Linked DNA regions of Homo sapiens. The protein of the gene in region 2 interacts with the protein of the main gene of each other region in a pairwise test. Each region holds a gene or a part of one and is shown on either strand. Other genes may lie near its edges.

Region 1 (7,561 bases), on a different chromosome or scaffold from region 2:
CTGCATTTCAGATCAATAGTATCTAAGCCCACCTCATCCCTCTCTACCCATGAAGCACAGCCATCTTCCACTCTGCCCAGCCTGACAACACTGGAGATCCTCCAGAGTTCTCTCCTCCAGGGGTAATCGAGACTAGCCACCACCAACCTGCTTCCTCCCTAAGAGTAACCTGCCAAAGGGAAGCCAATGGCTGGGGTTTCTGGAGAGTAGGCAGACCCCTGAGCCTGACCAAGCCAAACTGAAACGTAGATGAATAATGGAATGTGAATGACACCCTGTTGTTTAACAACAATCATCTAGCCTTTCTCACTTCTGTCTCCCATCTTTGCCCTGCGCTCACCTTCTATTGTCTACTGTGATGGCAGAAATTGCCTCCAGACTCTAGCCATTGAGAAGTATTCCTGCTCCAGGGCCATGCTAACCTCAGAGCAGAGTAGAAGCATCCTCTGGGACTCTAGTGGTCCCACCTGGCCCCTCCACAGAAATGTATCTTACCTTTGGATGTTTGGCTTCAGTTGTTTTCTGGTGTCCAGAAGGATGACTATTTGTCCAGAGAGAGAGACATTTGTCACAGTGCCCTGACTTGAAGCTGAGCATGGGGAAGTTGTTCTGGATACTCTGATGAACTCCTATCCTTTATCCCTTAGTATTTTATGCAAGTGTGAAGGGGTTCCAGGGAGATAAAAGTCATGGACCAGGAGGGTTTTAGCTAGTATGATAGACTTCAAAATGTTTTTAAGACACCATGGTGTACAAATGACCGGCCCAAAGAGGCCAGCTGACATCCTAGAGAGAGCCTGGTGAAGTTCGCCTGAGCTATCCCATTCACACCTGCTTTTCCCTGGATTTGTGTTTAATTCTTGGCTTTCATCCTCGATTTGCACTTTGGCATTGGTCCTGAATTCCAGCCTTCTGGTTCTCCCTCTGAAAAAAGTCCTGGTGACTCCTATGAATGCCTATAATTTCCCCTGCTGCCCAATCAAACCCTGCTCCCTAGATCTTGGACAGAAACTAATGCTTAGCCACATACTCCTGTTACGGGCCCAGGGTGTCCTGGACTTATTTTCTATCATGTACTCTTCAAGCAGGTAGTGATTGTCAGGACTTATTGGGGTTGCACCTTTGAAGTAGGTAAAAAAATAGAATTAATTATTTCTTATACTCACCCATTGACATCACATATTCTCGCACAATTGGGATCCAAAATATCCTTTCTAAGGTCCCTACAAAGGGAGTGATGGATGGGAAAATCCGAGCAATGCCAGTGGCCTCAGTGGCAAAGTTGATGAAGACACCAAAAGAGAGAATGCCATGGGGGTGATTGGCAATGATGTAGTTGTGTTTGGGAGAAAGATCATGAGTCTTCACCAGCTGTTAGAGGGAAATTGAGTCAGAGCATTGGCTACAAAGAAGGAAGAAACCACGTGTGGACTAAAATCCCAGCAGGTAGCCTATGTTTCCCTCTGGGAGCCCCAAATCCCTGTTCACTAGGTTGTCATCATTGTCATAGGATTGCCAGGGCTCACGATGGTCAGAGAGGCTGACCTGGGTTTGCCAGTGAAGGAAAGGCTGCCATCCACCTGTTTCCCCACCTGCCCATCCATCTTGGGCCCTTGCTTTGCATTATGACTCGGGGCCTTGACCTTCGCTGCTGACCACCAAAGCCTCTGAAAACATGGAGCTGAGTAGGGAGCAAGGGTCTGGGCAACAGGGACTGAGGGCACCCCGAGGAAGAGTGGTCACCTTTACTGGGAAGTAATTTCGGAAATACTTCCATAGGGTCCAGTTTCGTACCCAAGCTGAACGCCTGCCACCTGTGGGTACAGAAGGGAAGGGAAGAGTACACAGGGCATTGCAGTCCCTCTACCTCTCCCAGAGGAGGAGAGTTCTGCCTGCAGTCCTCAGGTCACGTGAGGGGCCTCCTTCTGACACCTCAGAACTGTAAGTACTGTCCCTGAATCCAATCCCCAAGACATAGGAAGCCCCTGCTCCTCTAGAGCCGACCAGAAAGGTGACAGGAAAATAGTCTGAAGCTGGGGGCACCTGCCCAGAGACCTCAACCTCATAATTCTTCCTGAGCTACCTGGTAGAGACCTCTGTCCCTGCTGAGCTTTGCTCTCCCTTCTCCCTCCCCTTCCTTCCCCTCTCCCCTACCCTTGGTTCTCCCCCTCTCCCTCCACCTCCCTCTCCCTGTCCTTCCATTCTTGGCCCAAACAGGACCACCATTGTGCCCCTGTCTCTTACCTTGACTGTGGGTGTTCCAATCATAGGTGAGCCAGGCTAAGGAGAGCACAGCCAAGGGCCAGAACTTACTGAATAACAGAAAGTAGGGTATAAGGAGAATGGGAATAGCTCCTGGGGAGACACAAAGGGTTCAAGCCTTTCAGTTCCCTTCAAGTTTTAGTATACTTCTCATAACCCCGGCCTCTGCTCTACACTACAGGAGCAGGGCTAGGCTGATGTGGGACTCTTCTCTCCTTCTCCCCTCTTCCCCAACCCCTCGCCCTCCATTTGTCTCTGCTGTGGTCTAGGCAGGCCTCTGAAGCCCCTGGATCTGGGTCTCCTTGATGGCCAAACTCTCAATTGAAGAAAGAGCAGAACCATGAAGTTGAGGTCAAAGGACAGCACGGCTTGGTGAATGGGAAGAAGAGCACATTGGGCTGGTAGCTGAATCCCCATTCTGGGACCTCTGGAAATTCTTTCTAAAAGCTTGACCCTCTTTCCTGTGCTGAACTGATAAGTCTGCATATTCCAGCAGGGAGGTTACCCGCAGTGTACAGGCTGTTTGATGCTGAAAAGTAAACACGGATTAAAAACCACTCCACTTTGGGAGGCCGAGGCAGGCAGATCACGAGGTCAGGAGATCGAGACCATCCTGGCTAACACGGTGAAACCCCATCTCTACTAAAGATACAAAAAATTAGCCGGGCATGGTGGCACATGATTGGAGTGCTACTCGGGAGGTGGAGGCAGGAGAATCGCTTGAACCCAGGAGGTGGAGGTTGCAGTGAGCTGAGATCGTGCCATTGCACTCCAGCCTGGGCAACAGAGCAAGACTCCGTCTTGAAAAAACAAAACAAAACAAAACAAACAACAACAACAACAACAAAACTGCCCTACTAGGCCAGGTGCGGTGGCTCACTCCTATAATCTTAGCAATTTGGGAGGCCAAAGTGAGAGGACAGCTTGAACCTAGGAGTTTGAGACCAGCCTGGGCAACAAAGCAAGACAGTATCTCTAAAAAACCAAAAAAACAAAAAACAAAACAACAACAACAAAAAACACTTTACTGTGTTCATTTTGTTCCATTCAAAAGTATCACAAAGGTTCAGAAGGGGAAGTCTGTGTTAGCAAATGGCCATAGCAGGCTGTAACTGCAAACACGATACATGTTACAGCAGTGCGAATGAATTCCATTTAAAAAATCTGCATTCATGAGAAAGAGGGGCTAAGTATACATATGGTGAATAAAAAAAGACTTAGCTAAGGGAATGACTTCTTTGACCAGGTACCATGTCATAGCAGATAAAAGTTTCAGGGAAGAAGAAACTCGGGAGTTACCTACCAGTTCTTTGTCTCTTGCATTTTGGACATAAATGAAAATAGCAGGAAAAAGGCTGAGTGGACAGTGCTTTAAAAAGTCATGTTATGGAGTAGAAGAAACCTTTGTAATAGGCTGAATTGCCCTCATAAGCACTGGTCGAGATAGTTGTTGTAAGCATTCAAATTAGACAGGAAAGCGTGGTGGGAGGAGTTTTATGGGAAGCCTGCCATGGAGAAAAAGCCTTGCTATCTATGCCCTTCATCAAAGAGGAGAGTAAATTTGCCAGTTAAGCTTCAGAAGGAAATTCAGATAAAGTTAAATAAGAATAATCACTAATTAAAGTTAGCCTAAGTGTATCATTTCTTTTATATTTTGTTTCAAATAAATTTTGTTTGTTTCCCCAGTATTTAGAAGAGAGCTTGGCACACAGTAGGTGTTCAACAAATATCTGTAGACCAATTGAAAACGAAATAAGCAAATGTTTTCTCTTTTCAGTAGTAAACTTGATAATTACTATTTAGTCAGCATGTATAGTGTTATTTAAATGTGATGTTATTTTAAAAGCATAGACGGATTAGTTGTGTGCCTTTTATCTGATTCATTCATCCACCAGTCCTAAAGGCGGTCTAAGAGCCCTTACCTGGGTAACACCATCCCCCTTGTGGAACCTATTGGAACTGCAGATATGACCCGGCAGGAGACGAGGAACGTTTTTTTCAGAGCAAGGCTTCCAGACCCAGCCCGAGTGTCATCAGTGTCGTGCACGGTAACAAAAGTGGAATTTAAAGATATAGGAGAAATAGAAGCCAAATGTGGAAGAGCTAAGTCTCATGTAAAAAGAGTTCCGTGACATAAAGCAAGGGTATCTGAAGAAGGAATGATGAAGAACAAGCATTTATGTATGTGTGACACTCCCTTAGGTATTATGGCCTTGACACCAGAAGATGGTTCCAATTTCTCTTGTCACGTTCAAGTGAGGCGTCTTGGAGAGGGTTATCAAAGAGGAAGTTCACATAGGTAGGCTCCTAATTTAGTTTGTAGTGAAGATGGCCAAGCCATTCTAATATATGTGCACTGGGGGAAAAGAAAAGAAAAAAAAAGAAGAAAAAAAAACTAATATATGCGCATTGGTAGCTCATCATAATTTTAACTTGCATTTCTCCAATAGCTAGTGATGCGTAACAGCTTTTCATGTGCTTGTCTGCTTTCTGTATATCCTCTTTGGTGAAGTGTCCATTCAAATCTTTTGCCCATTTTTCAATTGGGTTGTTTTCTTACTGTTGACTTTCGGTAGTTCTTTATGCATTTTGGATATAAGTTTTTTTGTCTGATATGTGATTTGCAAACATTTTCTCCTAATCTGTGTCTATCTTTTCATTCTTGTTAACAGGGTCCTTTTTACAGCAAAAGCTTTTAATATTGATGAAGCCCAACTTATTAATTTTTTTTCTTTTATAGATTGTGCTTTTGGTGTCAAACTGAAAGAACTCTTTGTCTAACCTCATGTCATGAAGATTTTTCCCCTATATTTTCTTTTCTTTTCTTTCTTTCTTTTTTCTTTTTTTTTCTTTTTTCTTTCTTTTTTTTTTTTTTTTGAGACAGGATCTGGTTCTGTCACCCAGACTGGCGTTCCATGGCGTGATCTCGGCTCAACTCACTGCAACCTCCGCTTCCTGGGCTCAAGCGATCCCCCCACTTCAGCCTCCAGAGTGGCTGGGACTACAGGAGCATGCCACCACACCCAGCCAATTTATTTTGTATTTTTTTGTAGAGACAGGGTCTTGCTATGTTGCCCTGGCTAGTTTCAAACTCCAGGTCTCAAGTGGTCCTCCTGCCTTAGCCTCCCAAAGTGCTGGGATTACAGGTGTGAGCCACTGCCCCTGACCTCCCCTGTGTTTTCTACTAAACATTTTACAGTTTTCTTTTTTTACATTTAGATCTACAATACACTTCAAGTTCATTTTTACCAGTTTTATGGAGGTATAATTTACAAATAAAAATGGTGTATATTCAATGTGCACAATGTGATGATTTGAGACAGGTATACATTGTGTGATGATTACAACAATCAAATTAATCAATACATTCACCACCATACATAGTTACCCTTTGTGTGTGTTTGTGGCTAGAGGTGAGGATACTTAAGATCCACTCAGCAAATTTCAAGCATATAATACAGTATTATTAATGCTGCTATACTTTAGATTCCCAGAAATTATTCTTTTTGTAACTGAAATTTTGTGCCCTTTGACAAATTTTTCCTTATTTTCCCTCTGCCCCAGCTCCTGGCAGCCACCATTCTATTCTCTGCTTCTATGAATTTAATTTACATTTATTTACAAATATATATATTTAGAGACAGGTTCTCTCTGTGCTGCCCAAGCTGGTCTCAAATTCCTGAGCTGAAGTGATGCTCCCACCTCAGCCTCCTGAGTAGCTAGGATTACAAACATGTGACACCACATCCAGCTCTAATGAGATCATATGGTATTTTTCTTTCTGTGTCTAGCTTATTTCACTTAGCATAGTATCCTCCTGGTTCATCCATGTTATTGCAAATGGCAGGATCTCCTTTTTATGGCTGAATAATATTCGTGTGTGTGTGTGTGTGTGTGTGACACTTTCTTTATTCATTCATCTGCCAGTGGACACTTAGGTCGATCCCACGTCTTGGCTATTACTAATAATACTGCAGTGAACATGGGGGTGCAGATATTTCTTCAAGACACTAATTTCATTACTGTTGGAAACTCCCCACTATTTTCCATACTGGTTGTAACAATTTACATACCTACCAACAGTGTACAAAGATTCCCTTTTATCTATATCCTCACCAAAACTTACCATTTGTCTTTTTGATAATAGCTATCCTAACAGGTGTAAGGTGATATCTCACTGTGGTTTTGATTTGCAGCTCCCTGATGACTAATAATGTTGAGCCCCTTTTCATATACCCTTTGGCTATTTGTATGTTTTCTTTGGAAAAATGTCTATTCAAGTCCTTTGCCTATTAAAAAGTTTATGTTATTTTATTTTTTTCTATTGAGTGGTATGAGTTCTTTATATATTTTAGAGATTAACCCCTTATAAGAGATATGGTTTGCAAATATTTTCTTCCATTCTGTGGGTTGCCTTTTCATTTTGTTGATTGTTTCCTTGGCTAGGCAGAAGATTTTTAGTTTGAGGTACTCCTGCTTGTTTATTTTTGCTTTTGTTGCCTGTGCTTTTGTTGTCATATCCAAAAAATCATTGTCAAGGCCAATGTCAAGGAGCTTTTTCCCTATATTTTCTTTTAGGAGTTTAGTGATTTCAGGTCTTACATTTAAGTCTTTAATCCATTTTGAGTTAATGTTTGTGTATGTCATAAGGTAAGAGTCTAGTTTCATTATTTTGCATGAGGATGTCTAGTTCAACACCATTTATTGAAGAAACTATCCTTTTCCCATTGTGTATTCTTGGGACCCATTTCAAAGATTAGTTGACTATAAATGCATGGGATTATTTCTGGGCTATCTATCTTATTTCATTGGTTTCTGTGTCTGTTTTTATGTCAGTACCATAGTGTTTTGATTACTATGGCTTTGTAATATAGTTTGAAATCAGGAAGTGTGATGCCTCTAGCTTTGTTTTTCTTTCTCAAGATTACTTTGGCTATTCAGGGTCTTTTGTTGTCTCATACAAATTTTAGGATTTTTTTATGTTTCTTTTAAAAATGTCATTGGAATTTTCATAGGGATTGTATTGGATCTATAGCTCACTTTGAGTAGTATAGACATGTTAATAATGTTAATTTTTCCAGTCCATGAACACAGGATATCTTTCAACTTATTTGTGGCTTCTTCGATTTTTTTCAATGTCTTACAGTTTTTGGTATACAGATCTCTCACCTCCTAGGTTAAATTTATTCCTAAGTATTTTATTCCTTTTAGTGATATTGTAAATTGAATTGTTTTCCTTCATTTCTTTTTTGGATAGTTTATTGTCAGTGTATAGAAATGCAACTGATTTTTGTATGTT
Region 2 (7,561 bases):
GTGGGTGGCTCTGGACCTAGCTTTGCAGCCTGGGCTGCCACCGGTGACCTGCGAGCTTGAGCATCTTTTCACGTCGTTGCTGGGTCATCCTCCAGCGAGGTGCCTGTTCAGGTCTGGTGACCATTTCCACTGTGCCTTTTCTGGCTGACATGTCAGAGTTCTTTATATGATTTGAATAAAGCTCTGTTAGCTAAATGTGTTGCAAATAGCTTTTTCGGTCTGTGATTATCTTTTGAGTTTTACAAATTGTTTTTGAAGAACAGAGGTTCTGGATTTTATGTGGTTCAGTTTGCCAATCTCTTCCTTTATGGATTCTGTTTTTAATGTCTTAGTTAAGCAGTCTTTCCTCACTAACAGGTCAAAATATGTATTCTGAATTTTTCTGGAAGCTTCACAGTTCAACCTAAAATCTTTCCTTTAGGTCATTAATCCACCTGGGGCTGAGTTGTGTGTATAGTGTGAAGTGCTGTCCCCTCTCCTTGTTCTCAGATGAGGGCCAGCTACCCTGCACCCTGCATGAAGAGCCCGGCCCCCCTGTTCACCCATGCAACTGCCCCCTGAGCCCCTCAGTATCCTTCATCAGGGGTCTGCTTCTCACCCTCTCTCTGGTTCCAGGTGGTCTGTTTGTCAGTCCCTGTGCCAATACCACACTGTCTTCATTATCATGGCTTCTACTTTTTAAAAATCACCTCTATTGAGGTATACTTTATATGGAATAAATGCATACACTTCAAGTGTGCAGTTTGATACATTTGGACAAGCATATATAATCTTGTAACGCTGCGCCAGTCAAGACTGAGAACAGTCCCAGCACCCTAGAAAGTCCCCGTGCTCCACAGGCAACCCCCGCTGCCCTCTCAAGCCCCCGGCCTGGTTTCTGCCACTGTAGACCGAGCAGCTCTGAGTGTCCTAGTGCCCATGATCATCAGCCGAGCAGTTCTGAGTGTCCTAGTGCCCATCATCATCAGCCGAGCAGCTCTGAGTGTCCTAGTGCCCATCATCGTCAGCCGGGCAGTTCTGAGTGTCCTAGTGCCCATCATCGTCAGCCTGGCAGTTCTGTCTGTCCTAGTGCCCATCATCATCAGCCGAGCAGCTCTGAGTGTCCTAGTGCCCATCATCGTCAGCCGGGCAGTTCTGTGTGTCCTAGTGCCCATTATTGTCAGCCGAGCAGCTCTGAGTGTCCTAGTGCCCATCATCGTCAGCCGAGCAGCTCTGTGTGTCCTAGTGCCCATCATCGTCAGCCGGGCAGTTCTGTGTGTCCTAGTGCCCATCATCGTCAGCCGGGCAGTTCTGTGTGTCCTAGTGCCCATTATCGTCAGCCGGGCAGCTCTGCGTGTCCTAGTGCCCATTATCATCAGCCGAGCAGCTCTGAGTGTCCTAGTGCCCCTCATCATCAGCCGGGCAGTTCTGAGTGTCCTAGTGCCCATGATCATCAGCCAAGCAGTTCTGTGTGTCCTAGTGCCCATCATCATCAGCCGAGCAGCTCTGAGTGTCCTAGTGCCCATCATCGTCAGCCGGGCAGCTCTGCGTGTCCTAGTGCCCATCATCATCAGCCGAGCAGCTCTGAGTGTCCTAGTGCCCCTCATCATCAGCCGGGCAGTTCTGAGTGTCCTAGTGCCCATCATCAGCCGAGCAGCTCTGTGTGTCCTAGTGCCCATTATCATCAGCCGAGCAGCTCTGAGTGTCCTAGTGCCCATTATCATCAGCCGAGCAGCTCTGCGTGTCCTAGTGCCCATTATCATCAGCCGAGCAGCTCTGAGTGTCCTAGTGCCCCTCATCATCAGCCGGGCAGTTCTGAGTGTCCTAGTGCCCATCATCATCAGCCGGGCAGCTCTGAGTGTCCTAGTGCCCCTCATCATCAGCCGGGCAGCTCTGAGTGTCCTAGTGCCCATTATCATCAGCCGAGCAGCTCTGAGTGTCCTAGTGCCCATTATCATCAGCCGAGCAGCTCTGTGTGTCCTAGTGCCCATTATCATCAGCCGGGCAGCTGAGTGTCCTAGTGCCCATTATCATCAGCCGAGCAGCTCTGAGTGTCCTAGTGCCCATCATCGTCAGCCGAGCAGCTCTGCGTGTCCTAGTGCCCATCATCGTCAGCCGAGCAGCTCTGCGTGTCCTAGTGCCCGTCATCGTCAGCCGAGCAGCTCTGAGTGTCCTAGTGCCCATCATCGTCAGCCGAGCAGCTCTGAGTGTCCTAGTGCCCATCATTATCATCAGTGGAGTCACAGCACACAACTCATTTGTTTCCGGTCTCCTTTCCTCACTGAAACGCTCTCAAGATTCAGCAGTTCTGCTGCATGTGCCACGTCTGCTTGTTGCTGTGTGGTGGTCCACCAGTGAGCTTGTCAGTTTTGTTTATCCTTTCTGTTGATGGATGTTTATTTTATTTGTTTCCAGTTCCGGGCTATTAGGAATAAAGCTGTAAGCATGTGTAGACCTAACTTTGTGTGGACACATGTTTTTTTTCCTCTTGGGTGCATACCTGGGATTGGAACTGCTGGGTTCTGTGGTAAGCACCAATCTCTTCCAGAGTGGCTGTCCCCCTTGACACCCCAGCAAGGTTGTCCCACAGCCTCGCCAAGGGTTGGCCTTTGAGTTTTATCCTGGCCACTACAGGGTGGTATTTTATTGTGATGTTAATTTGCACTTCCCTGCTGAGTAACGATGCTGCTCATCTTTTTGTTGTACTTATTTGCCACTTGTATTTCTTGTTTTGTGAAATGAACATTCAGATTTTTTGCCCATTTGTTTAAGTGTTTGTGTTATTCCTGAGTTGTAAGAGCCTGTTGTTTGTTCTGGGTATAAGTCCTTTATCAGGTGTACTTGCCAACACGATATTCCTATCCTGTGCCTTGCCTTTCTGTTTCCTAGACAGTACCATTTGAAGAACCAAATGTTGTTTTTTTTGGTGGGGGTGGGGGGTTTCTTTTCTTTTTCTTTTTTTTTTTTGAGACATTGTTTGCTCTCGTTGCCCAGGCTGGAATGCAATGGCCTGATCTCAGCTCACTGCAACCTCTACCTCCCAGATTCAAGCGATTATCCTCTCTCAGCCTCCCAAGTAGCTCGGATTACAGGCTCCCACCACCATGGCCGGCTAATTTTTTGTATTTTTAGTAAAGACGGGGTTTCACCATGTTGGCCAGGCCGGTCTCGACCTGACGTCAGGTGATCCACCCTCGTTGGTCTCCCAAAGCGCTGAGATGACAGGCGTGAGCCACCATGCGCAGTCTAGAACCAAATGTTTTAATTCTGTTACCATTTTTTTTCTCTAGTCAGTGCTTTTTGTGTCCTGTCTTAAAATTTTTCACCTAGCCCAGGCAGCAAAGATTTTCACCTGCATTTTCTTCAAGAAGTTTTATAGTTTTAAGATATATGCTATTTGGAATTGCTATTTCTAGATGGTATGAGGTAGTAGTCACGTTTTTTCCATTTTTCCTCATACAGATACCTCGTTTCCAGCACCATTTGTTGAAAAGAGAACCCTTAATTTATTAAAGTATGCAGTGCTTTTGTCGAAAATCAACTCACTTTGTGTGTGTGGTTCTTCCCCAGGACTCTCTCTTCTGTCCCACTCTTCTCTGTTTCGGTCTTTATACTGTTACCATGCTGTCTTGATCATTGTAGCTTTATATTGAATCAGGTGATAGAAGTTACCCAACTTTTCTTCTTTTTCTTTTTTCCAAAATTGTTTTGGCTATCCTAGGACCCTTTGCATTTCCTTATGAATTTCAGAATCAGCTTGTCAGTTTCTAGAAACATTTTCATTGGAACTACTTGAATTTCTAAATTAATTTGGGAAGAAGTGCCATCTTAGGCAAACTGAGTCCTCCAATCCAGTGCCATGGTAAGGTGCTCCATTTATTTAGATCAGTCTCATCCTATATTTTCTTGTAGTTTTCAACGTATTGGTTTTGCACACATTTTGTTAAATTTATTCCTACATATTTTGTGGTTTGGGATGCTATTATAAATGATTTTTTAATTTTCCACTTATTTGTTGCAAGTATATAGAAGTACAATTAGCTGTTGTATATTGATCTCGTATCATGTGACTTTGTTAAATTCATTCATTTCTGTAGTTTGTTTCTTTATTTTTCTTCTTTTCCTTCCCTCCCTCCCTCCCTCCCTTCCTTCCTTCCTTCTTTTCTCTCCTTTTTACTTTTTTCTTTCAATAAAAACAAGGTATTCTGTGTTGCCCAGGCTGGAGTAGAGTGGCTATTCTCTAGTGATTTTTTTCTTTTTTTTTGAGATGGAGTTTCTCTCTTGTTGCCCAGGCTGGAGTGCAGTGGCGCAATCTTGGCTCACTGCAACCCCCACCTCGCCAGTTCAAGTGATTCTCCTGTCTCAGCCTCCCGAGTAGCTGGGATTAAAGGCATGTGCCACCACACCCGGCTAATTTTGTAGTGATTTTTTTTTTCTTTGAACAGGGTTATTTAGAGATATGTTACTTATTTTCCAAATAATTGAGAATTTTTTAAATAGATTCTATTGCTCAGGATTTTTCATTCAATTCTATAAGGCCCAGACAACATACCCTCTAATATTTTAGTCTGTTAAAAAATGTTGGAGACTTATTTTACGCCCCAGTATATGGCCTAACTTCATGAATATTTCATGTACACTTAACGAATGTAGCATTCAATAGTTATAAAAGTCCCCTCCACAAGCTGGAAACCCTGGGATGCCAGTGTCATGGCTCAGTCCAAGTCCAAAGGCTTCAGAACCAGGGAAGTCAGTGGTGTCACTCTTGGTCCTGGGCCAAAGGTCTCAGAGCCCTGAGGAGAGAGGAGGTGCTGGTGACATCTGGGAGTCCAAAGGTCGGGGGGCCTGGAGGTGTCCAAGGACGGGGGAGGAAGAGTGTATCCCAGCTCCAGCAAACAGATGGACATATTCGCCTTATCTTTGTTTTTATTTTATCTGGGCCCCCAGCCTATTAGATGGTGCCCACCCTCATGGAGGGTAGATCTTCCTCACCTGGTCAGTCACCTCTGGAAACATCTTCTCAGACATACTCAAAATAATCCTTTACCGGGTTTCTAGGTGTTCCTTAATCGGTCACCTTTGACCTTTGACACCTAAAATTAACCATGACACCCACACCCACCTCTGGCTGCTTTCAAGTTTCTATTTTCTTGCCTTTGATTATCAGCCAAAGTTTTGCTGTGATATAATTAGAATTTGTGGCTTGATATATTTTGTTAGGCTCAGAAAATTGGCCATGATCTTTTCAAATATTGCTTGTGTTCTGTTGTCTTTCCTATCTTCTTCTGGGTCTCTGGTTACACATGTGTTCAGTCTTTTGCAATTTTCAATGTGTCCCTTATGCTTTCATCCATATTTTCCATTATTCTCTAAGCTTCAATGTGGATATTTCCTACTGATCATTTTCCATTTTACTAATCCTTTCTTCATCTGTGTCTAATTTGTCTATTTCATTATTGGGGCCTTAATTTGAGTTATTATGTTTTTCAGTTGTAGAATTTATATTTTAATCTTTTTGATAAATTCTGATTACCTGCAGAAATTCTCCATATTGTCTTCTAATAACTCCAGTATTGGTATCCCCTGGGTGAGGGTGGGGGAGGTGTCTATTTCCTGTTTTTTCTTTTGATCTTATCTCCTAGTAACCTAAGGAGTTTTTCTTTTTTTCTTGGATTCTAGACAATATGTGTGAAAAATTGTAGAGATGACTTGAGGCTTCCTTTGATGTTATCCTCACCAAAGAGCAGTTCTGTGCTTCTGCCTGTTGGTCAAGGATGGACAGCTCGTGTTCAGTAGAGGCTGAGCTGGTTTGAAACCGGACTTCCCAGCCTGTTTCTGGTTAACTCTTACTCCTGGGATGGGACCCTTCAGGGACCCCACCCAAAGCTGGGGTGCTTTTTTTTTTTTTTTTTTTTTTCCTCTTCAGATGGAGTCTCGCTCTGTTGCTCAGGCTGGAGTGCAGTGGCGCGATCTTGGCTCACTGCAAGCTCCGCCTCCTGGGTTCACGCCATTCTCCTGCCTCAGCCTCCTGAGTAGCTGGGACTACAGGCACCCGCCACCACACCCGGCTAATTTTTTTTGTATTTTTAGTAGAGACGGGGTTTCACCCTGTTAGCCAGGATGGTCTCGATCTCCTTACCTCGTGATCCGCCCGCCTCGGCCTCCCAAAGTGCTGGGATTACAGGCGTGAACCACCGTGCCCAACCTCAGGGTGCTTTTTTTCTTTCTTTTTCTTTTTCTTTTTTTTTTCTTTTTTTTTTTTTTTTTGAGAAGGAGTCTTGCTCTGTCACCCAGGCTGAAGTGCAGTGGCATGATCTCGGCTCACTGCAACCTCCACCTCTTGGGTTCAAGCAATTCTGCTGCCTCAACTTCCCGAGTAGCTGGGACTACATGTGCATACCACCATGCCCGGCTGCGCCTCTCCTCCTAGATGGACACTGAATTCCAGTGTTTGTCCCTCCAGCTCCATGAGTCTGAGAAGGCCCCACTTAGCTTCTCAGCCTCTTAGCTACCACATCCCTCTCAGCCTCCACCCCTTGAACCCCTTGACTTCCGGGCAGCAAAAGCATCGGGGCCAGTTGCTCCAAATTGGGTCTCACCTCCACACTTCCTTCTCTTTGGGGTGCTGGTCCTCGCTGACTTGGTGGTTCTCTGACACCTTTAAAGAAACTTCTTAAAACCTGGGTTGTTATCTGCAGGAGGGTTGGTCAGTTACAGAGTAGTCAGCCATGGCCATAAGCAGAACTCCGTTTCATCCACTTCTGGTGCCCCCCACCCCACATGACCCCCCACACATCTGGGGCACTAGAGAGATAGTGCCCATCAGAGAATTGTCTTTTGACAGTGGTCACTCTCACAATTTGCCGGCAAACATTCTGGGCATATAGGGCTGACTCATTCGGGACTTAGCTGCCATAGGCTTGGATTCTTGTTGGAAACAGCTGCTATAATTTATTCTGATGAATTACTGTTCCAAAGATGGTATTTCTGAGCTTTCCAAGAACACACTGGACATCAGTTCTAGTTACAGTGAAAGTGGGAGGCAGTGGAGAAGGGAAGCACTGGAAGCTCAGCGCTTGTCTGATCAGGTATATGATTTGTAGAGACCAAAAAAAGGTGACTTCTCCCATCCAAGTACTAACCAGGCCCGACCCTCCTTAGCTTCCGAGGTCAGACGAGATCAGGTGCGTTCAGGGTGGTATGGCCGTCGACAAAAAAGGTGACTTCTAAATAAACAATCCCTGTGTTCCCCTGGTGGTCTTCTGGAGGCAGCTGAAGGGCACCTGGATTGTGACATGCCCAGGGGCCCTGGGCTGTGTGTCTACCCTCCTCTGGCAGGGCCACTGCCTGGCTCACAGCCCGTGATGAGTGTGTGGCATGCAGTGGGCGCACAGGCATTGATTGAATCTTTTGAAGATAAAACTAAGCTATCTTTGTTCCATTCTCCTGCTCAGATCACCCGGAAGTTCAGGCTGAATTCTGAAGGCAAACTTGAGCAGACGGTCTCCATGGCAACCACGACACAGCCAATGACTCAGCATCTTCACGTCACCTACAAGAAGGTGACCCCGTAAACCTAGAG

What was found.
Region 1: the proteins of THAP4 (region 2) and DGAT2L6 interact in binary tests that used the Homo sapiens proteins (3 or more experiments, as listed by UniProt).

The regions. Positions count from the first base shown.
Region 1 is NC_000023.11:70,194,065-70,201,625, reverse strand, and holds part of DGAT2L6 (diacylglycerol O-acyltransferase 2-like protein 6), read right to left. Parts: intron 2,356-7,561; coding exon 2,245-2,355; intron 1,815-2,244; coding exon 1,744-1,814; intron 1,372-1,743; coding exon 1,167-1,371; intron 1-1,166. UniProt on the Homo sapiens protein: Diglyceride acyltransferase that uses fatty acyl-CoA as substrate. Particularly active with oleate as a substrate. Has no wax synthase activity to produce wax esters.
Region 2 is NC_000002.12:241,584,598-241,592,158, reverse strand, and holds part of THAP4 (peroxynitrite isomerase THAP4), read left to right. Parts: intron 1-7,433; coding exon 7,434-7,553; 3' UTR 7,554-7,561. UniProt on the Homo sapiens protein: Heme-binding protein able to scavenge peroxynitrite and to protect free L-tyrosine against peroxynitrite-mediated nitration, by acting as a peroxynitrite isomerase that converts peroxynitrite to nitrate.